2 separate regions of the Homo sapiens genome follow, and region 2 is linked to region 1. Evidence: fine-mapped expression QTL. A gene starts in region 1. The other region holds a variant in brackets. All regions are shown on one strand. Distances are from middle to middle.

Region 1 (10,797 bases):
GTTGCAATGAGCCGAGATCACGCCACTGCACTCCAGCCTGGGCGACAGAGCGAGACTCCATCTCAAAAAACAAAAAAAGAAATATCTATTTTGTTTCTGACACAGAGCTTTTAAAATTGTTATACTACCCTGTATAACAGGGGTGAGAGGAACATCTTTTTTTTTTTTTTGAGACAGTCTCATTGTATCCCCCAGGCTGGAGTGCAGTGGGGTGATCTCGGCTCACTGCAACCTCTGCATCTCCAGTTCAAGCGATTCTCCTGCCTCAGCTTCCCGAGTAGCTGGGATTACAGGTGCCTGCCACCACGCCAGGCTAATCTTTGTATTTTTAGCAGAGACAGGGTTTTGCCGGGTGAGCCAGGCTAGTCTCGAATGCCTGACCTCAGGTGATCCACCCACCTCAGCCTCCCAAAGTGCCTGGATTACAGGCTGTGAACCACCGTGCCCAGCCTAACCTCTTTTGTTATAATATTTGGTCTTAGCTCCCAGTTCCTCACGTAGGAGCTTTTAAGCCCCTTGGAATCTCTGGAGTGGTAAGTGTCTTTTTGTATGCTAATGAGATGTCTGGTGGATGAGGGTGCTAGATGGTTCCAGAAAGAAACTAATTGCCAGAGGAACCAACTCTGTGATTAGAGGGTAGGAATTTTCAGTCCCACCCCTCCACCTCCAGGGATGAGAGGAGCTGGAGATTTATTTCAATTACCAATGGCCAGTGATTTAATCAATCATGCCTACATTATAGAACATCCATAAAAACCTTAAATGATGAGGTTTGGAGAGCATCTGGGTTAGAGAACACGTGGTGGTGCTGGGAGGGTGGTGTGCCCAGAGGATATGGAAGCTCTGTGTCCCTTCCCACACACCTTGTACTTGTCCATCAGTAACTGAAACATCTTTTGTTATAATATTTGGTCTTAGCTCCCAGTTCCTCACACAGGAGCTTTTAAGACCTTTGCAATCTCTGGAGTGATAAGTGTGTCTCTCTATGCTAATGAAATGACTGGTGGATGAGGGTGCTAGATGGCTCCAGAATGATTTTATTAAAATAATCTAAGCTTGCATAACATGGAAAAATGTGTCGGTAACAAAATGTCTAAGTGGCTCTGGCCTTGAGGAGATTTACAGGTTCATGGGTTACAGATTTCACTTATTAAATTAGGTAAGTAACACAGGGAATTCCCAAGTCTGCTTGTATGATTGTCTTACAAGTATGGTATTTGCGATAATATGCTATTTATACACACCACCTGAGACTACCCTGTGCCCCTAGACATCCCGTGACTGGTCCCATCTCTGTCCTATGGAAATGAACTGAGTGAGCAGTGGAAAAATCCACATGCACTTTTCAGTTCACCTGTATTGAACTCTACAAAATCCTTTCCATAGGAAGTTTTCCTCACTGGGAACATACCCAGCAATTAGGACAATATCTAAAGCATAAGGATTATTGTTAACTAATAACACACAATATGCATTAATAGTTTTGTCCTTTTGTTTGTTTATAGCTTTTATTGGCATTGATTCAGTATTTCCAACAGTTTTTTTGGTGACTAGATGGCAGGCATTATTGGAAGATCTGCAGTAATTGTTCACCATTTCAGCTGTTGGCACAACAAGCAAGAAACAATCTTCTTACTCTCCAACTCCACATTCCAGTTATTAAATCAAGCTCTCCTGAGAAGGAAATCCTTACGCCTTTACAAACATGTAACCTTCCTAAACTATGATGGATTATGTTCCTGATGTGTCTATATAAGCCCCACCTTCCATTCTCAACTAGCAGTAACCTCTGTGTCCTTTGACATCCAAATTGTTTTCTTTCATTCATTTGCACTTTCATTCAACGAATGTTAACCAGGACCTTCCAGATTCAAGGTATTGTGCATTTCCTTTTATTTAAAATTATTTTAGCAGCATCCCTGGTCTAAAAATAAGATAAAATATTTTGTGGACTGGTCATATCCTAATCTCTAAGTTACTTGAGAACAGAAGGATCTTACTCTACTCTTATTAACACAATAGTTGGCACTTGGTGAGTATTTATTAAATATTTGATGCCTTGAATCTTGACCAAATTCTAATTCAACTCAATTCCAATTCCAATCCAATCAGCAAAGCAAACAAAATCAGCCCACGGTAGTGTCCAACCCCTCCCTCTCTTCCATTGCCCACTTCTAAGTACCACCTTCCCTGGCACTAATTGTTAAGTCTAATTAGGGAAAAGGAGTCAGGATGGTGGGAGCAGGGGGAAGCAAAAAGAAGCAGGTAAACTACAAGTCTGCCATTCTTTATGGTCCAGACACACAGCCCTCCTCTGCAAATAACTCACAATCTTCCTGCGCCCAACAATTACAGCATAAACACTATTCCATAAAATCCCCAGCAAGCCTTTCTTTGCAGTTGGCTGCTCTTCTGCTGATTCTGCCTGTTGCCTTCTCGTACCTTCCTACTTTCTCTAACAAATCTGCCTTTATCTACAACTGTCTTGGTAAATCCTTTTACCCACGTACCACCAGCCCAGACAGCTGCCCCTCACCCATGATACTAATCTTTTAAAAGGTTGAGTCTGCATTTTGGATACTACATCACACATGCCTTAAAAACAAACATTAAAAGTAACTCACCCTCCTTAGAACCCTGATGGTTGGCTTTTATAGCAGGGCACGATGGTATAACCAGTAAGGCCAGAGCAGGTGGCCAGCCCCCCAACCCTCCCTGCCTTGTATCAAAACCCTCAGGTTTCAGGCCAGGCTTGGTGGCTCATGCCTGTAATCCCAGCACTTTAGGAGGCCAAGGTGTGTGGATCACTTGAGGCCAAGAGTTCAAAACCAGCCTGGCCAACATGGCAAAATCCCATCTTTACTAAAAATACAATAATTAGCTAGGTGTGGTGGCACGCGCCTGTAATCCCAGCTACTCAGGAGGCTGAGGCATGAGAAACGGTTGAACCAGGGAGGTGGAGGTTGCAGTGAGCTGAGATCACGCCACTGCACTCCAGCCTCGGTGACAGAGCCAGACACTGTCGCATAACAAAACAAAACAAAAAAATTCCTCAAGTGTCAAAATTTTTCTTTTTCTTCAATTACAGAAGAGCCCCGCTTAGAGCTAAGATTCTACCATCTGGAATGACTCATAAAATATGAAGTGGGCCGGGTGTGGTGGCTCACGCCTGTAATCCCAGCACTTTGGGAGGCCGAGGCGGGAGGATCATGAGGTCAGGAGTTCGAGACGAGCCTGACCAACATGGTGAAACCTTGTCTCTACTAAAAATACAAAAATCAGCTGTGCATGGTGGCGTGTGCCTGTAATCCCAGCTACTCAGGAGCCTGAGGCAGGAGAATCGCTTGAACCTGGGAGGCAGAGGTTGCAGTGAGCCAAGATCGCACTATTGCACTCCAGCCTGGGTGACAGAGTGAGACTCCATCTCAAAAAAAAAAAAAAAAAGTGAAATGCATCAAATGGTAAGCTTTGGTTAGGCTAAATTGCAAAATACTATTTCAAATCAGAACCAGAGATTAATAATAGTAAATATCTGTTATTTTTTTCTGGGGCTAACATTTCTTGTCACTTATCATAAAGTCTGGTATTAATTTGCATGTGTTACTCTCATCTACCCAGATTATAAATTCCATCAAAGCAGTAAGTGTTCCTTGTAAAGAGGTGGGATCTTCATAAACTCCTCTACATACTTGGGAATTGGTTCAAGTAACTTGCAGACACACAAGGAATCCCTGCTTTCCACACCTGCTGTCCTCCCTTTCCCAAGCTGTCTCTTGGAGGGGGTAATGAATTTACAATGATCTTTCTACACTATCTGCTCGATTACCCTATGACCAAAGACTTTGTAACCACAGGTCAGAGTTAAAATCAGAATTTCAGTGAAGCGATGTTCCATGAACAGCTGGATTCACTAACTCAGTGGTCCCCAATCTTTTTGGCAGCAGTGACCGGTTTCATGGAAGACAATTTTTCCACGGAAAAGGGGGCAGGGGCTAGGGGAGAGGGGTGGGGTGGTTTTAGATCATCAGGCATTAGATTCTCATAATGAGCATGCAACCTAGATCCCTCGCATATGCAGTTCACAATAGGGTTCACTTTCCTATGAGACTCTAATGCCCCCACTGATTGGACAGGAGGCAGAGCTCAGGCCGTAATGCCAGAGATGGGGAGCGGCTGTAAATACAGATGACACTTCGTTGGCTCGCCCTGCTCACCTCATGTGCCAATGGGTTCCTAACAGGCAACAGACCAACACCCGTCAGCAGCCAAGGAGTTGGGGAACTCTGCACTAACTCCAAAGAACATAGCGGGTCTGGCAGGGCATGGTGGCTCACGCCTGTAACCCTAGCACTTTGGGAGGCTGAGGCAGGCGGGATCACCTGAAGTCAGGAGTTCGACACCAGCGTCGCCAACATTGCAAAACCCCGTCTATACTAAAAATACAAAAATTAGCCGGGCATGGTGGCGCGCAGCTGTAGTCCCAGCTACTCGGGAGGCTGAGGCAGGAGAATCGCTTGAACCCGGGAGGCGGAGGTTACAGTGAGCCGAGATCGCGCCACTGCACTCCAGCTTGGGCGACAGAGAAAGGCTCCGTCTCAAAAAGATCACAGCGGGTCTGAAATTGAGAGTTTGACAAGTATACCTACATAAACCTCACCTTACAATACCAAAGGGAAGGAGACAAGCCCTTGGTTGGCCTGGCATGGCGCTGGGCGGCGGCGGGGGGGAGCTCACATCGCTTTGGGAAGCAGAGGCTAGAGGATTGCTTGAGCCCAGGGGTTCAAGACCAGCCTGGACAACATAGGAAAACCTCATCTTTACAAAAAATATAAAAATTAGCCAGGCACAGTGGCTCACACCTGTAATCTGAGGGCTTTGAGAGGCCAAAGAGGGACGATCGCTTGAGCCCAGGAGTTCAAGACCAGCCTAAGCAACACAGCAAGACCCTGTCTCTACCAAAAAATAAAAATTAGCCAGGCGTGGTGGTGTGCACTTGTAGTCCCAGCTCCACGGGGGGCTGAGGCGGGAGGATCGCTTGAGCCCAGGGGTTCCAGGCTGCAGTTAGCTATGATCGCGCCACTGCACTCCAGCCTGGGCTACAGGTTGAGAACCTGTCTAAAAAAAAAGAAAAAAGAAAAGCTCTCGATTAGCCCCATCTGTGGGGGCTGGGGATGCTCCAGAATTTCTAGGGTTCAAGGGCAGCAGCCTGATTGCAGGTGGGGATCAGGGCATTTCTTGGAGGCTGCATCTGCGGGGCAGGCTCTGTCCTCTGTGAATTGGGGGCCTTGCCAAGTTCCCCCAACCCTTTTATCCCTGCTGCGCCATCTTGGGAGCAGGGAACTGCTTGGGAGCAGGGGATTCTGTCCCAGGAAGGGTCGAGAAAGTTCCTGGGGGGCTTCAGGGGCTTTCCACAGAGGGAGCACGGCGGGGGCGGAGGCTCCCTGCAGGGAGCAGCGCTGAGGTAGACTGGCTCTGACCTTGGCTCTCTGAAGGGAGAAAAACTTAATCGTTCTTCAGGTCCAAGAGCTCCAAAGACCCCCAATCCTCAGTAACTCATCTCCTGACAAAAGACCTTGCGAAACTGCCAAAGCGCCACACTTCGGCTCGCGATTGTGAGGAAATTGGTTGAGGAACGGAGTGGGACGCCCATGCCGCTTCGCCAGCACTTGCCAGGCGTTCCGTGGGGCAGCATCTCCTCTGAAGGGCCGCCGACAGTACCACGCCAATGGAACGGCGTACCCTCCTCCACTGCAGCCTGCCTAACCCCGGACTGCGCGCCCGAGCTGTGCGCATGCGCGGACCGTCCGCGCGGTCGCAACGCGCAGGCGCCGTGTCCACTTCCGGGATCTGTCAGCCGCTCCCTCTGGGCTTCCGTCCTCCGCCCGCGCCCGACGGAGCCTGTTCGCGTCGACTGCCCAGAGTCCGCGAATCCTCCGCTCCGAGCCCGTCCGGACTCCCCCGATCCCAGGTAACGGCCAGCAGGGGCGAGCGTCTCACCCTGTCGGCCTCTCTTGTCCAGGCCTGGCGCCGGACTTGCCGCGGGGGCAGTGAGACGGGGGCTCAGGCCGCGGGGCCCCGAGGCTGAGGCGCGGCCGGGTCTCCCTGCCGGGGCCTCCTGAGGGGGCGGGGATCCCCTTTCTCCGTGGATCCCCTGCAGCTTTTCTCAGGATGTTCGAGCTCCTAGCCGCCTCCGATGCCCGAATTAACGGCCCCTTCTGCGCCCCCAGGGTCCTACTTGCACCTCTGCTGGGGGCATTTGTCACCGTCTCTAAAATTGTGTCAAGTAGGAGGATCTCCCGTAATCGAGCGACCCGCGGGACTATTCATCTCTTTAGTGTCTAGAGTCGATCCCTGCATACAGTAGGCGCCCATAGGATGTTTGCCTGCTCTCTAGGGCAGCCCTCAATCCTTCGGTTAATGGGGAACCTTCTCGATCTCGAGAAAAACCTTCTCCCGAGTTCTTTTAAGATTTCCCTGCATGAGTACCGCCTTCCCCCAAGTCAAAATTGCACCCTTCTCGGCGCTCTTATTCATTTAGTGGAATCTTTTATGCCAGTCCTGGCACCACCACTTTGTTGAGTGATCCTGGGAAGATGCTTCTCTGCGCCTGTTTCCTCATCTGCAATAAAAAGATTCTTACCGTTTTGCTAAGAATCAAGTGAGCTTATTTGCATAAATTGCTTAGAATAGTTCCTGGCCGAGAGTAGGTGATCAATAAATATTAGCTATTATTACTGCTTCTGGGCATTCTATGCATATCCGTCTTCCTTTCCTTTTCTATCTCCTCCACTCTCCCCAAACACCAACCCTCCAGACTTGAAGACCAGAATGGTGTCAGCCTTATTTATGTTTCTAGCCCCATCCCGGTATTTACAACACTGCTGGGAACATGATAGGCACTTAATCAGTTATAGCTTAGAATCTTTGATTATAAAGCCATCTGTTCTCCTGCAGCTTTGGAACCTTCTGTCTATGTCAACTCGTAGCTTAAATTGCCGAGATTATCTTAGTTCTGCCCTCTCTCCTCAATTTTATCTAGTCTTGTGGTTTCACATAGGGCCTGGGTTTTCAGGTATCTAAAAACAGAGGAGGGGCATCAGTCAGGAAGGTGTTTTTGTCCTGTTAGGGAGTGGGTAACTGTGGTTGTTGTCTTCCTTTTTTTTTTTTTTCCTGCAGCCTCGACCTCCTGGGCTTAACAGATCCTCCCACCTCAGCCTCCTGAGTAGCTGGGACTACAGGCGTGTGCCACCACACTGGGCTAATTTTCATTTATTTTTATTTACTTATTTTTGGAGATAGAGTCTCACTCTGTCACCCAGACTGGAGTGCAGTGGTGTGATCTTGGCTCACTGCAACCTCCACCTCCTGGGTTCAAGCGATTCTCCTGCCTCAGCCTCCCGAGTAGCTGTGACTACAGGCATGAGCCACTGCGCCTGGCTAATTTTTTTTTTTTTTTTGTATTTTTTGTAAAGACAGGGTCTCCATATGTGGCCCAAGCTGGTCTGGAGCTCCTAAGCTCAAGCTATCCTCCCACCTCGACCTCCCAAAGTGCTGGGATTTTGGGTGTGAGACACCACACCCAGCTTATATGGCTATTTTCTCCCACAAAGTATTCAGAGATCTTCTGGAGTTCATCTGTTAATCACAGTTAAAGGAAGGGACCATTTCGGAAAACTCCTATTTTGGACGCGGAGTGGTGATACTTTGATCTAGTTGTCTCATCCAATGCTGAAACAAATCCTATATAAAGAAGTTTAAAATGGTCTGCTGGTGAGGCTGGTGCCTGGACTGGAGCCTGTCTGAATGTTGAGGAGGGTGTGGTGACCTTGTTGGAGTACTTGATGTTGCTAGATTGGCTAATGAGAGTGATTAGGAACTAGGTGAATCACGGTCTTGAAAACTGACCCTAAACAGGGGACAGAAATGCCCACTTTTGTGGGCATTTTCAAGCTCCAAAGGAGTAGGGCCAAGAATTTATAGCATATGTCAACGTTTCCAAGCTCAGAGGAAACTAACTGGTGGGTTCTATGGTTGGTTTAAAAGCCTTGAGTTGGCCAGGTGCAGTGGCTCACGCCTGTAATCCCAACACTTTGAGAGGCTGAGGCGGGTGGATCACCAAGGTCAGGAGTTTGAGACCAGCCTGACCAACATGGAGAAACCCCGTCTCTACTAAAAATACAAAATTAGCCAGGCATGGTGGCACGTGCCTGTAATCCCAGCTACTCAGGAGGCTGAGGCTGGAGAATCGCTTGAACCCGGGAGACGGAGGTTGCGGTGAGCTGAGATCACACCATTTCACTCCAGCCTAGGCAACAAGAGCAAAACTCCATTTAAAAAATAGAAAAGCCTTGGGTCAAAGGGAGAAAGGGAACCTGCTGGCATGTATTTCAGGCTAGGCTCTGTACTACTTGCTTTCACATGTCTCATTTAATTCTCCTTGTGATCTCAGTGGTATATCCACTTTACAGAAGAAAAAAATGAGATTTAGAGATATCAAGTGACTTGCCCAGGGTTTCATAGCTAGTGTGTGTCAAAAGCCAGGGTTCAAACCCAGCCTCGGCTTCAGAGCCCATGGCTAGCCATACATCAGAATGACTCTGTACTCAGTGATAGATAAAGAAAAGGGGTGGGGGCCGGGCATGGTGGCTCATGCTTGCAATCTTAACACTTTGGGAGGCTGAAGTGGGCAGATCACTTGAGCCCAGGAGTTTGAGACCAGCCTGGACAACATAGGGAGACCCCTGTCTTTACAAAAAACTAAAAAATTAGCAGGGCATAGTGATGCATGCCTGTGGTCCCAGCTACTCAGGAGGCTAAAGTGGGAGGATGGCTTGACCCTGGGAAGCCGAGGTTGCAGTGAACTGAGATCACACCACTGCAGTCCAGCCTGGGTGACAGAGCAAGACCTTGTCTGAGAAAAAAACTCAGAGAGAGAGAAAAGGGATGAGGGGGGAGGGAGGGAGGAAAAGAAAAGGGATGAGGGGCAGGGCGCGGTGGCTCACGCCTGTAATCCCAGCACTTTGGGAGGCCGAGGCAGGCGGATCACGAGGTCAGGATATCGAGACCATCCTGGCTAACACGGTGAAACCCCATCTCTACTAAAAATACAAAAAAATTGGCCGGGTGTGGTGGCGGGCCCCTGTAGTCCCAGCTACTCGGGAGGCTGAGGCAGGAGAATGGCGTGAACCCGGGAGGCAGAGTTTGCAGTGAGCCGAGATCGTGCCACTGTACTCCAGCCTGGGCGACAGAGCGAGACTCCGTCTCAAAAAAAAAAAAAAGAAAATAAAGAAAAGGGATGAGGAGTTCCTGGCATTTTTATTTGTCCCCTTTTCTCCCTCTCTAGCTCTATTAAGACAAAGCTTTTCAGATTTCACTTAAACATTAACCATAGTTTAGAAATTATAATTATCACCCTATGACAGAAGGTACCCTTTCTTGGTACATAATTCAAGCTATTAGGAATTTCTTCTGCATTCACTGGGTTTCATGAATGCAAGTGGTGTTTGCTAGGTGCATTCTAAATTTGACAAACATGAGTGTTGTCTTGGCCTGCAGACTTAAAATAGCCACCTGATTATAAAAGAAGTACAGGTCTTAAGTGTATGTCCAAATATGGAACTTGAATGATATGGCAAAATTAGAAATGCAATTTTAGAAGTAATTACACTGTTGTGTAAATGGCCACCTCTTTTGAAGTCTTTGCTACATTGCTTATAAAACACTGAGTTGAACATGAGAAAGCCTTTTGTCTGCAGCTGTACTTTTCAACTGGACATGAACCATGTACTTTTATGGCACGTAGATATTCACATCAAATTTCTGATTTGCAGACCGATTTTATTTTTAGTTAACAAATAAGCTTATCAAATGTGGCTTTTGAACTAAAGCGCTTTTAATTAAGGAGTTATAACAGCATGTTATTTTGAGTAGCTGTTACTAAAATCTGTTGTGATGGAACAATTTGGAGTGAGCATCTGATATCAGAGATAAAGAGAGAAGCATGCAGTGAGCATCTGGAAGTTCTTGTAAAAAAAAAAAACAAATTAAACATTCTCATTTGAATGCATTTAAAATTTTTTTAAATTGCCAATTCCTAAGCTTTTTCTTTGTTAGTTGTAGTTTGCTTTCTCGACTGTATAAAAGAAAAAAGTAATGACTTAACTATCTTCACTCTTAGAATAGAATATGAAATGCTAGCATTTCTCTGCCAGTTCAAGGTATCAGATGTTTTTTATTTAAAGTTGCACTTACCTTTGGGTTCCCCCCCCCTTTTTGTTTGTTTGTTTGTTTTGTTTTGATACAGAGTCTCACTCTGTCACCTAGGCTGCAGTGCAGTGGCACCATCTTGGCTCACTGCAACCTCCGCCTCCCATGTTCAAGAGATTCTTGTGCCTCAGCCTCCTGAGTAGCTGGAATTACAGGTGCCTGCCACCATGCCCGTCTGATTTTTGTATTTTTAGTAGAGATAGGGTTTCGCCATGTTGGCCAGGCTGGTCTCGAACTCCCGACCTCAGGTGATCCGCCCACCTCGGCCTCCCAAAGTGCTGGGATTACAGGCTTGAGCCACCATGCCTGGCCTGGGTTCCTTTACAATTAGCAGAGGTGCTGCTTCTGCTTTCTGAGACTGATTTCTGCTTTGTCAGCTGAACTTTCATTGTTCACTTTACAACCTTCTAGTGGCCCTTCCATTCATTTCCTGCTTGCATCAGAATTCATATCTCACATTTCAGCCTCCACCCAAGGTTAACATGACACATACTTACGTGTGTTGAAACTTGAGTTTATTGTGAGGGTGCC
Region 2 (10,797 bases), 100 kb after region 1:
GTACTAGAATTAGAAAAGTGAGGCTAGAATCACTCCTGTTACCTACAGCTAATCCCAAACCTCGGCAGCTGGCTCAGGCCTCAGGGAAGCTGGTGGCTGCCATTTTCCCTTCCAGGTGGCTGCAGAGGACAGGGCAGAAAAGCTGTGAACACGCACTATGGGACTAGCTTACTTCAGAGAAACAGGTCCCCGCTGGGTACCCTGGGGCAGGCCCAGAGCCATCTGCCCAATGGCGTTCTTCCCAAATAGGCACCACTGTGCTCCTCCATCCGCAGTTGCCACCCCAGGCCCCCAAGCCAGAATCACTGGGTCCCACCAGCTCTGCCTCCACAGCCTGCCGAGCCCCTCCCCATCAAAGCCACCTCCCTCTGACCATTATCTCAACACTGCCAAGATAGGCTCCATGAGATATGGGGAAAAAAGCAAAGACACACCAGACACAAACTGAGAGCTGGTAGGGGAATATACCAAAAAAGCCAAAAAGTGCTATCCAACATACAGCTACTACCACACAATGACAAAAGGTTTGGCCGGGTGCGGTGGCTCACGTCTGTAATCCCAGCACTTTGAGAGGCCGAGGTGGGCAGATCACTTGAGGTCAGGAGTTCGAGACCAGCCTGGCCAGCATGGTGAAACTCCATCTCTACTAAAAATACTGGATGTGGCGGTGCATGCCTGTAGCCCCAGCTACCTGGGAGGTTAAGGCAGGAGAATGGCTTGAACCCGGGAGGCAGAGGTTGCAGTGAGCTGAGATCACGCCATTGCACTCCAGCCTGGGCGACAGAGCAAGACTCCATCTCAAAAAAAAACAAAAACAAAAAAAGGTTTGACTCAAAAGACTGGACAATTCTAAACCTTAAGGTGCCGGATAGAGCCTGAAAGCACAGAAAGCAAAACTCAACAGAATCACGAATATAAACAAGTCCACCATCATGAGGGAATATGAGTACAGATGCTCCTGACAGCAGGGTTCCGCCCCCCAAAAACCCATCGTAAATCAAAAATCAATCTGGCTGTGTGTGCTGGCTCACTCCTATAATCCCAGTGCTTTGGGAAGCCGAGGCAGGCGGATTACATGAGCTCAGGAGTTCCAGACCAGTTTGGGCAATATAGTGAAACCCTATCTAAAAGATTAGCTGGGTACAGTGGTACATGCCTGTAGTCCCAGCTCCTCAGGTGGCTAAGGTGGGAGGACTTCTTAAGCCTGGGAGGTCAAGGCTACAGTGAGCCATAATCGTGCCACTGCACTCCAGCCTGGGCAACAGAGTGATTCCCGTCTCTTTAAAAAAAAAAAAAAAAAAGAAAAAAGAAAATGCGGCACGGCATGGGGGCTCACAACTATAATCCCAGCACTTTGGGAGGCTGGGGTGGGTGGATCACGAGGTCGGGAGTTCAAGACCAGCCTGGCCAAGATGGTGAAACCCCGTCTCTACTAAAAAAAAAAAAAAAACCACAAAAATTAGCCTGGTGTGGTGGCAGGCTCCTGTAATCCCAGCAACTCGGGAGGCTGAGGCAGGAAAATCACTTGAACCTGGGCGGCAGAGGTTGCAGTGAGGCCAGATCGCATCACTGCACTCCAGCCTGGGTGACAGAGTGAGACTCCATCTCATAAAAAACAAAAGGAAAATGCATCTATTGCTGGCAACACAGCAGAGGGTCCTGACTTTATAATTATGCAAAAGTGATATACATTCAGTAGAAACTAACCCCGCACAAAGTCGATCCTTACAGAGTTACATCCTGATAAAACCATTGCAAAGTTGAAAAATCCTGTGTAGAATCATCTTTAAGTCAGGGACATCTGTCTGTGACTTAAATATGATATGCTTTAGGTCTATGATAGTCTTGTGACTGTCGAGTTGAACCCCTAGTGAGCCCTACGCCAGAGGGAAGAGACAATCCACTAGGAAGATATGCACAACATGTGATCAACAAAAAACCAGTACCCAGAATATATAAAAAACCCTGGAATCAATGAGAAAAGGCTTGCAACCAACAGTTCAAAGCACAGACACAGTTCAAAAATGCCCAGCTATGCCTTCAGCCAGACACAATTTCCATTGCTGTCCCACCTATTTGTAGGAAGCCCTCAAAATGGCATTCAGGCGTGACACCTGCACGGCGTTCCTGACCCCGCACCCTCTAGCTGTGTGTGTCCCTGCCCATTTACTTGTTTCCGCCCCATCCGGGCTGTGCTTCAAGCCATAGTGGCTCTCGATGCTCCGGAGATGCTCAGCACAGAGTGTGATTCGATGGACCCAAAAGCCAAACCCCAGAGCCTGATAGCCTCAGAACAGCAGGGAGAGGCTGTGGCCGTGACAAAGCAGATTCCATGACTCTGCCCTGCTCCTGCTGATACAGGAGGTTGAAAGAAATTATTTAGGCAGATAATAAGGGCAACAGAGTCCTTGGCGAAATTTCCCTTTTAATAAAAAGCAGCCCCCAAATAATTTCTTTTCTAACAAAGAGCAGCCTGAAAAATCGAGCTGCAGACATAGATAAGCAAACTGGAAGCTTGCAGGGGTAAATGCTGGCGGCTGTGCCAACAGAAAAGGGCTACCTGGGAGCCAGATATGTTCAACGTGGGGGCCCCATCTTCCCTTCTTTGTTGCCATGTGTACAGTAAAGAACCAGGCAACATGGCGATGGCCACCTGTCTGCATAATAAAAGGTTAGGGTGGGGCACCAGCTTTTATACATGCTATGTAAATGGCACACCTGGTCCAACTAATCTTTTGCGTCCTCTGTAAATCAGACACCACCTCCCCAAGCTCATCTACAAAACCTCTGCATTACACTATGGAAGTGGCAACCCACTTCTCTGGCACCTCTCTCTGCAAGGAGAGAGCTCTTCTCTTTTTTTTTTTTTCACCACCACACCGGGCGAGAGCTCTTCTTTCTTTCGCCTATTAAACTTCAGCTCTTAACCTCTTTTTTTTTTTTTTGAGACCAAGTCTCCATCTATCGCCCAGGCTGGAGTGCAGTGGCGCGATCTTGGCTCACAACAAATCTCAGGTATTCACCCCAGACAATGACACCACTTCACTGCCTGCCCAGTCCCTGAGCAAGCGACAACCTGTTTGGAGTACCCAGCAACGTGCAGGTGCTGGGGACCCAGATGAGCACAGCAGACAGCCTCTGCCTCCAGAAGCCTGATACAGGGAAGGCCAGGGCTGCCCATGAGCACATGATCCAAGACTGTAGGACACGGCATAAAGGAACAGAGTGGGAAGGGGGAGGGGAGACTTTCATCCCAGGTCAGAGCGGCAGCCAGCTGGGCATGTCTGAGGGCCACTTAAGCAGAGACCTCCAGGAAAAGTGGGTGCCACCTGAGGCAGCGGGAACACCAATCCCGAAGCAGGCAAGAGGTTGGTGGCCTCTGCGAACTGACAGAAGGCCACTGGGACAGACAGAGAAAGCAAACGCAAGGCTGAGACATGAGATGAGCCACGCAGACAGGGACTCGCAGGCTGTGGTCTACAGACTTGGGTACTGCTCCTAAGGGAAGCTGCTGGACAGTTTCAAGCATGGCAACACAATCCCAAGGGCCAGAACCGGGGTTGGGTGGTGGGGGGAGGGGGTAGCAATGGTGAAGGAGCTGATGAGCTTTTGAGCTTGGGGCACACACCCGGTCAAAGGTGGGAGGGTACTGGGCTGCAAACTCCAGCTGGCGGATGACCACTTCGTTCACCGGGACCCTGTTCTGCTTCATGTCCTTCAAGATGCTGATGAGATAGGTGTAGTTCAGCTTCCTGATGGCCGCGTTGATGAGGGCACTGTAGATGTGAGTGTTGGGGGTCACCTGGGACTTCTAGAACACAGGGACATCGTAGAATCAAGATGATGGCAGCCATTGGGACCCAGCAGCTCCCACCCTCTGTCAATCAAGCTGGCTCCCGGGACCAGCGGCCAGGGCCAGCAAGGCAAACTTGGCAGCAACAATGTGCTGAATATCCCTCTCCAGCAGGAAAGCCAAGCCCAGCCCCTCTGCTCAGCCCTAAAGAAGCTGCGGAAAAGGACGCTCGTGCTGCTCTCAGACACCGACTGACTCAGGCAGAAAATGATGTGGGAGACACCACCTCCTTGCTCCCTGGGGTGGGCTTCC[T/C]GTGACGCACGGTCACCAGGTGGTGGTTGGCCTAGAAAAGTGCAAGCCTTGGCTGGGTGAGCCCGGTAGGGTCCAGGAAAACAGCCAGAGGATGATGGACCTGGGGACACCGACAACCCAGGACGCAGCCTCTGCTGTGGTCGGATGAAATCCACGCAGCACTTCCAATGGGGGTTAGGTGGGAGGCACAGACCTCGGGGGCTTTGAAAACTGCCCACGGCCCCTCAGGAATTCTGAGAATCCCTGCCATACCTCTAGAGTGTTGGGGCCGAGGCCTGTGCCCAGCCCTGTGTCAACCCACGGCCACCTTCTTCCGGATGGGAACATCCGTGTGTCTCTACGCCCAGCCCTGAAGCACTCACTGGGGTCTGCTTCCCCCAAAATGGGACCAAAGACCAGAAGGTCATTGACCCCACTCTCTTTGCCCCATGCACAGTTCATCCTCTCCAGGTGGGGGGTCTGCAGACCCCTCAAACTTTCCTCCTGAGCTGCAGAGTGCTCCTGAGCACCATGGGTGTCCTGCCCAGGCCCGAGTCCACTCACCTTCATGTCTGTGAGAAGCTGTAGACCGTCCTTCGGCCTGTGGCACCCGATGGCCAGGTTGCAGAATGTCTGCAGGTTGGGGACGAGGCCCCTCTTTGCCAGGACCGGCAACAGCGCCTTGGCCCCCTCCAGGTCTCCCAGCTTGCTCTTCTTTCTCACCAGCGTGTTAAAGAATGTCAGGTCGGCCTCTACCTGGTGCTCATCCAGGAGGGCCAGCAGCAAGGACTCTGCAGGACTCCCGGACTCCACCACCTCGGCCAGTAGCGTGAGGGTCCTGATGTCGGGCTGCTGCCTGTGCTCTGCCATCTTGCTCAGGAAGCCCTCCAGGCCCCCTATCAAGGCCAGCCGGTCAGCTGGGGTGGTCACCGTTCCAAAGGAGACCACTGTAGGGGGAACGGCCCCGGGGGTCAGGAGGTTGACTTCCAGCTCCACGGGAGGTGGCTTCAGGGCCACTGCGGTGAGGGCTGCTGTGTGGCTGGGCTCTGCCTTAGTATCCACCTCTGGTTGGGCCTTGCCGGGCACTCTGGCTTCCGGAGGCTCTGGAGGCCCAAGTGCCTGAGAAGGTTCCAGAAACAGCTGCCTCTCCAGGGCCTCCACATGCAGCATGGCTGACATGAGGTTGCCTGCCTTGGCCTGGGCTGTCCTCCTTGGCCGCTGCCTGCTCACTGGGGGCTGAAGCACAGTCGCCTCCTCCCTGGGCTTCAGAAGCAGCTCTGAGGCCACCTGGGGGTCCCCTAGGCCACAGTCCCGAGCTGCCACCAACAGCAGGTTGTAGCTGTCCCGGCTCGGCTGTAGCCCTAGACTCAGCATCAGCCGCCACACCTGCCACGGAAGAGACAAACGTCAGCTGGGTGCTCCCATTCAGCAGCTGGGCGCAGGGCTCACGCCTGGAATCCCAGCACCTTGGGAGTTTTAGATGGGAGGATCCCTTGAGATCAGGAGTTCGAGACAAGACCGGGCAACATAGCAAGACCCTGCCTCAAAAAAATACGCCAGGCGCGGTGGCTCACGCCTGTAATCCCAACACTTTAGGAAGCTAAGGCAGGCAGACTCCTTGAGATCAGGAGTTCGAGACCAGCCCGACCAACATGGTGAAACCCCATCTCTACTAAAAATACAAAAATTATTGGGTGTGGTATTGCATGCCCACAGTCCCAGCTACTCAGGAGGCTGAAGTGGGAGAATCACTTGAACCCAGAGATCGAGGTTGCAGTGAGCCGTGATCATGCCACAGCACTCCAGCCTGGGTGACAGAGCGAGAGTGTCTCAAAACAACTGTAAAACATTTAAAAAATTGGCCGGGCCTCTCCCTCTCCCTCTCCCTCTCCCCCTCCCTCTCCCCATGGTCTCCCTCTCCCTCTCCCTCTCCCTCTCCCCACGGTCTCCCTCTCCCTCTCCCCACGGTCTCCCTCTCCCTCTTTCCACAGTCTCCCTCTGATGCCCAGCTGAAGCTGGACTGTAACTGCTGCCATCTCGGCTCACTGCAACCTCCCTGCCTGATTCTCCTGCCTCAGCCTGCCGAGTACCTGCGATTGCAGGCGCGCGCCACCACGCCTGACTGGTTTTTGTATTATTTTGGTGGAGACGGGGTTTCGCTGTGTTGGCCAGGCTGGTCTCCAGCTCCTAACCGCGAGTGATCCACCAACCTCGGCCTCCCGAGGTGCCGGGATTGCAGACGGAGTCTCGTTCACTCAGTGCTCAATGGTGCCCAGGCTGGAGTGCAGTGGCGTGATCTCGGCTCGCTACAACCTCCACCTCCCAGCCGCCTGCCTTGGCCTCCCAAAGTGCCAAGACGGCCGCCACCCCGTCTGGGAAGTGAGGAGCGTCTCTGCCTGGCCGCCCATCGTCTGGGATGTGAGGAGCCCCTCTGCCTGGCTGCCCAGTCTGGAAAGTGAGGAGCGTCTCTGCCCAGCCGCCATCCCATCTAGGAAGTGAGGAGCGCCTCTTCCCGGCCGCCATCCCATCTAGGAAGTGAGGAGCATCTCTGCCCGGCCGCCCATCGTCTGAGATGTGGGGAGCGCCTCTGCCCCGCCGCCCCGTCTGGGATGTGAGGAGCGCCTCTGCCCGGCCGCGACCCCGTCTGGGAGGTGAGGAGCGTCTCTGCCCGGCCGCCCCGTCTGAGAAATGAGGAGACCCTCTGCCTGGCAACCGCCCCATCTGAGAAGTGAGGAGCCCCTCCGCCTGGCAGCCGCCCCGTCTGAGAAGTGAGGAGCCCCTCCGCCCGGGAGTCACCCTGTCTGGGAAGTGAGGAGCGTCTCCGCCCGGCAGCCACCCCGTCCGGGAGGGAGGTGGGGGTCAGCCCCCGCCAGGCCAGCCGCCCCGTCCGGGAGGGAGGTGGGGGTCAGCCCCCCACCCGGCCAGCCGCCCCGTCCGGGAGGGAGGTGGGGGTGGTCAGCCCCCTGCCCGGCCAGCCGCCCCGTCCGGGAGGTGAGGGGCACCTCTGCCCGGCTGCCCCTACTGGGAAGTGAGGAGCCCCTCTGCCCGGCTAGCACCCCGTCCAGGAGGGAGGTGGGGGGGTCAGCCCCCCGCCCGGCCAGCCGCCCCGTCCGGGAGGGAGGTGGGGGGTCAGCCCCCCGCCCGGCCAGCCGCCCCGTCCGGGAGGTGAGGGGCGCCTCTGCCCGGCCGCCCCTACTGGGAAGTGAGGAGCCCCTCTGCCAGGCCAGCCGCCCCGTCCGGGAGGGAGGTGGGGGGGGTCAGCCCCCCGCCCAGCCAGCCGCCCCGTCCGGGAGGTGAGCGGCGCCTCTGCCCGGCCGCCCCTGCTGGGAAGTGAGGAGCCCCTCTGCCCGGCCACCACCCCGTCTGGGAGGTGTGCCCAGCGGCTCATTGAGAACGGGCCATGATGACAGTGGCGGTTTTGTGGAATAGAAAGGGGGGAAAGGTGGGGAAAAGATTGAGAAATCGGATGGTTGCCGTGTCTGTGTAGAAAGAAGTAGACATGGGAGACTTTTCATTTTGTTCTGTACTAAGAAAAATTCTTCTGCCTTGGGATCCTGTTGATCTGTGACCTTACCCCCAACCCTGTGCTCTCTGAAACATGTGCTGTGTCCACTCAGGGTTAAATGGATTAAGGGTGGTGCAAGATGTGCTTTGTTAAACAGATGCTTGAAGGCAGCATGCTCCTTAAGAGTCATCACCACTCCCTAATCTCAAGTACCCAGGGGCACAAACACTGCAGAAGGCCGCAGGGTCGTCTGCCTAGGAAAACCAGAGACCTTTGTTCACTTGTTTATCTGCTGACCTTCCCTCCACTATTGTCCTATGACCCTGCCAAATCTCCCTCTGCAAGAAACACCCAAGAATGATCAATAAAAAAAAAAAAAAAATTGGCCGGGCGCGGTGGCTCACGCCTGTAATACTAGCATTTTGGGAGAGCAAGGCGCCGGATCACGAGGTAGGAGAGCGAGACCATCCAGGCTAACATGGTGAAACTCTGTCTCTACTAAAAATACAAAAACAAAATTAGCTGGGCATGGTGGTGGGCGCCTATAGTCCCAGCTACTCAGGAGGCTGAGACGGGAGAATGGTGTGAACCCAGGAGGTGGAGCTTGCAGTGAGCCGAGATCATGCCACTGTACTCCAGCCTGGGCGACAGAGCAAGACTCCATCTCAAAAAAAAAAAAAAAAAATTAAAAACATTAAAAAGAAAAAGAAAAAAAAAGCTCTCCAGCGGGGAGCTGTGGTTCACACCTGTAATCCCAGCACTTTGGGAGGCCCAGGCGGGCAGATCACATGAGGCCAGGAGTTCAAGACCAGCCTGGTCAACATGGTGAAACCCCGTCTCTACTAAAAATACAAAATTAGCTGGGCGTGGTGGCGGGCGCCTGTAATCTCAACTACTCGGGAGGCTGAGGCAGGAGTATCGCGTGAACCTGGGAGGCGGAGGTTGCAGTGAGCCAAGATCGCTCACTCCAGCCTGGGCAAGAGTGAGACTCCATCTCAAAATAAATGAATGAATGAATGAATGAATGACTCCTGGGTTGCACCTGCAGAAGTGCTAATGGGGGTGTGGGAGGGTTGAACAAGTCCCCAGGTGAGTGTGTGGCAGGCTTTCAAGGAAGGTGAGTTTAGAGGGGCTAAGCCGACTGCAAAGCAGGGTGGGAGGGGCGGGGGCCACCCTCATTCCATCTCCAAGGGCCTCCTCTCCCTGCCATCTGTAGAATGGAGGCTACAGTGGCTGCTGGGTTTTCAGAAAAGAGCACAGATATAAAAATACTCAGCACAGGGCCATCGTGGGTGCTCACAGGATCACCATTTTGCACCTCTGGCACCGGGGAAGCAGGGCAGGAAGGTGGGGTGGGAGGGACATACCTGGAGGGCGTACCGGAAGCCTGTCTTCTTGTCTTGGATGCAGCCCATGAGCAGGAAACTGAAGGTCTCCTCTGTGACCACGTGCCCTTTGTGGATGATTTCCTGGGGGAGGGAACAAAGACGTCCCACTGAGAACCTGCAGCAGGCTGGGCATGGTAGCTCATGTCTGTAATCCTGGCACATTGGGAGGCCAAGGCAGGATGATCACTTGAGGCCAGGAGTTTTGTGACCAGCCTGGGCAACATAGCAAGACCCTGTCTCTAGGAAGCCTTCCCTCGAGTGCACAAAGCAGGACACAGCACACGGTGGCATACACAATCTCCAGTAAGGTCTCATCAGATCCATCTGTGAACCCCAGGGCCCAATACCGGCTGTCTCATCCTCCCTAAGCCTTCCTACATGAGGAGAGACAGACACCACAGCCCTGCCCCTGACACGTGGGACCAGCCCCATGAAGGGGAGCAGGACGGCAGGGGAAGCCCCACCTTGAACACATCGAGGCACATCCTAAGGTCTGCGCACTTGGCAGCCATCTTCAGCAGCGCGTGGTATGTTTTCAAGTTGAGCTCGAAGTTTTTGGCCTGCAGCTGCTGCCGGAGCTTCAGGGCGCTCTGTAGAGCTGAGTCCTTCCAGGGGGACTCGGCACAGACGTTGAACAGGGCCGTGTAGGTGGCGTCCGAGGGCTCCAGGTCCCGCTTTTTCATCTGTGGAGATGGAAGAAGCTCAGTGGTGGCCCGGGATCAGCTGGACGCACAGGTGAGCAGCTGCCCCAGAGGAGGCTGAGGCTGGAGAGGACCCCGTCACTGCATCCACCAGGCCAGGCTCTAAGGCAGAGCCATGGACACATCAGAGCCCAGCTCTCCAAACTCAGACACATTGAAGGGACTCTGAAAACTGAGCCCACACACCCAGATGTACCAAACAGGAGCTACCCTGCCCTGGGCACTTGTCAGCCCACTCCAGGCCTGGGGTCCTGGCAGCAAGGTCTTCCTGATGTCCCCACCTTCAGGCCACCCCGTCAAGGGGAAAGGGCCTGTAGTGCTTACTACCTGAGGGCTCCCGGGCAAGTTAGCACTTCCTCGCGAAAATGGGGATGACACCATCACCTTGAAACCAGGCATGCCTGTGGCAAGTGGGAGGATGCACTGCAGTGCTCTAGGGGTGGCCCCGAACCAGTGGCACAATGCACATTCTCAGGGCCACCTGATCTGGTAAGTCACAAGCCCCGGAGCTGAGTGACACTCAGCTTACTGAGCCTCCAGGGGACTAAGGCATGTGCTCAGGGTTGACAATCCGTGGTGAAGCCTAGCACTCGCTATTGGCCAGAGAAGGGCCATCTGGACAAAGGCAGGCGATAGGCAGCTCAGCGGCAGAAAGAACCCTGCTAGAGTCAGGCCATCTGGGGCTCAAATCCCAGCCCCGGTGCATTCAAGTGGGGTGGCCTTGGACATGTCCCTTCATCTCTCTGTGCCTCAGTTTCCTTATCTGAAAAGCAAAGAGGGCAGTCCCTACTTTGAGGATGATGTAAGCTCTGCGTGTATTGCTGCACTCCACAGAGGTGCACTGACAACTCACTACCTGCCCAGCAGCAGCCCTGGGGTTAGCAGAGCGGGCACAGCCTATCCTTACTGAGCTTACACTCAAGAAGGGAGACACACTGCAGGTGAGTCACCAAAAACAGTAACAAGGCTGGGTGCCGTGGCTCACGCCTATAATCCCAGCACTTTGGAAGGCTGAGGTGGGCAGATCACCTGAGGTCAGGAGTTCGAGACCAGCCTGGCCAACATGGCGAAACCCCGTCTTCTACAAAAAACACAAAAAAATTAGCCAGGCATGGTGGT

Evidence for each region. PIP is the estimated chance that this variant, and not a neighbour inherited with it, causes the effect.
Region 2: its variant is the best candidate, but not a certain one, in a credible set for the expression of ARPC1A in lung (TOPMed, PIP 0.60).

The regions. Positions count from the first base shown.
Region 1 is chr7:99,320,037-99,330,833 of GRCh38, forward strand. It overlaps ARPC1A (actin related protein 2/3 complex subunit 1A), which reads left to right and starts at 5,862. Exons shown (of 10, transcript NM_006409.4): 1 at 5,862-5,968. LOC105375421 (a long non-coding RNA gene) reads right to left here and starts at 5,772. Exons shown (of 4, transcript XR_927798.3): 1 at 5,478-5,772. RefSeq lists an enhancer at 5,428-5,987 and a silencer at 5,963-6,142.
Region 2 is chr7:99,420,147-99,430,943 of GRCh38, forward strand. It overlaps ATP5MF-PTCD1 (ATP5MF-PTCD1 readthrough), which reads right to left. Exons shown (of 9, transcript NM_001198879.2): 5 at 9,442-9,660; 6 at 8,957-9,058; 7 at 4,649-5,470; 8 at 3,629-3,811; 9 at 1-3. PTCD1 (pentatricopeptide repeat domain 1) reads right to left here. Exons shown (of 8, transcript NM_015545.4): 4 at 9,442-9,660; 5 at 8,957-9,058; 6 at 4,649-5,470; 7 at 3,629-3,811; 8 at 1-3. Among named protein-coding and RNA genes, the nearest start is that of PTCD1, 13 kb to the right of the region's middle. RefSeq lists enhancers at 2,850-3,351, 9,708-10,304. The variant T/C (reference allele first, on the strand shown) is at 4,106.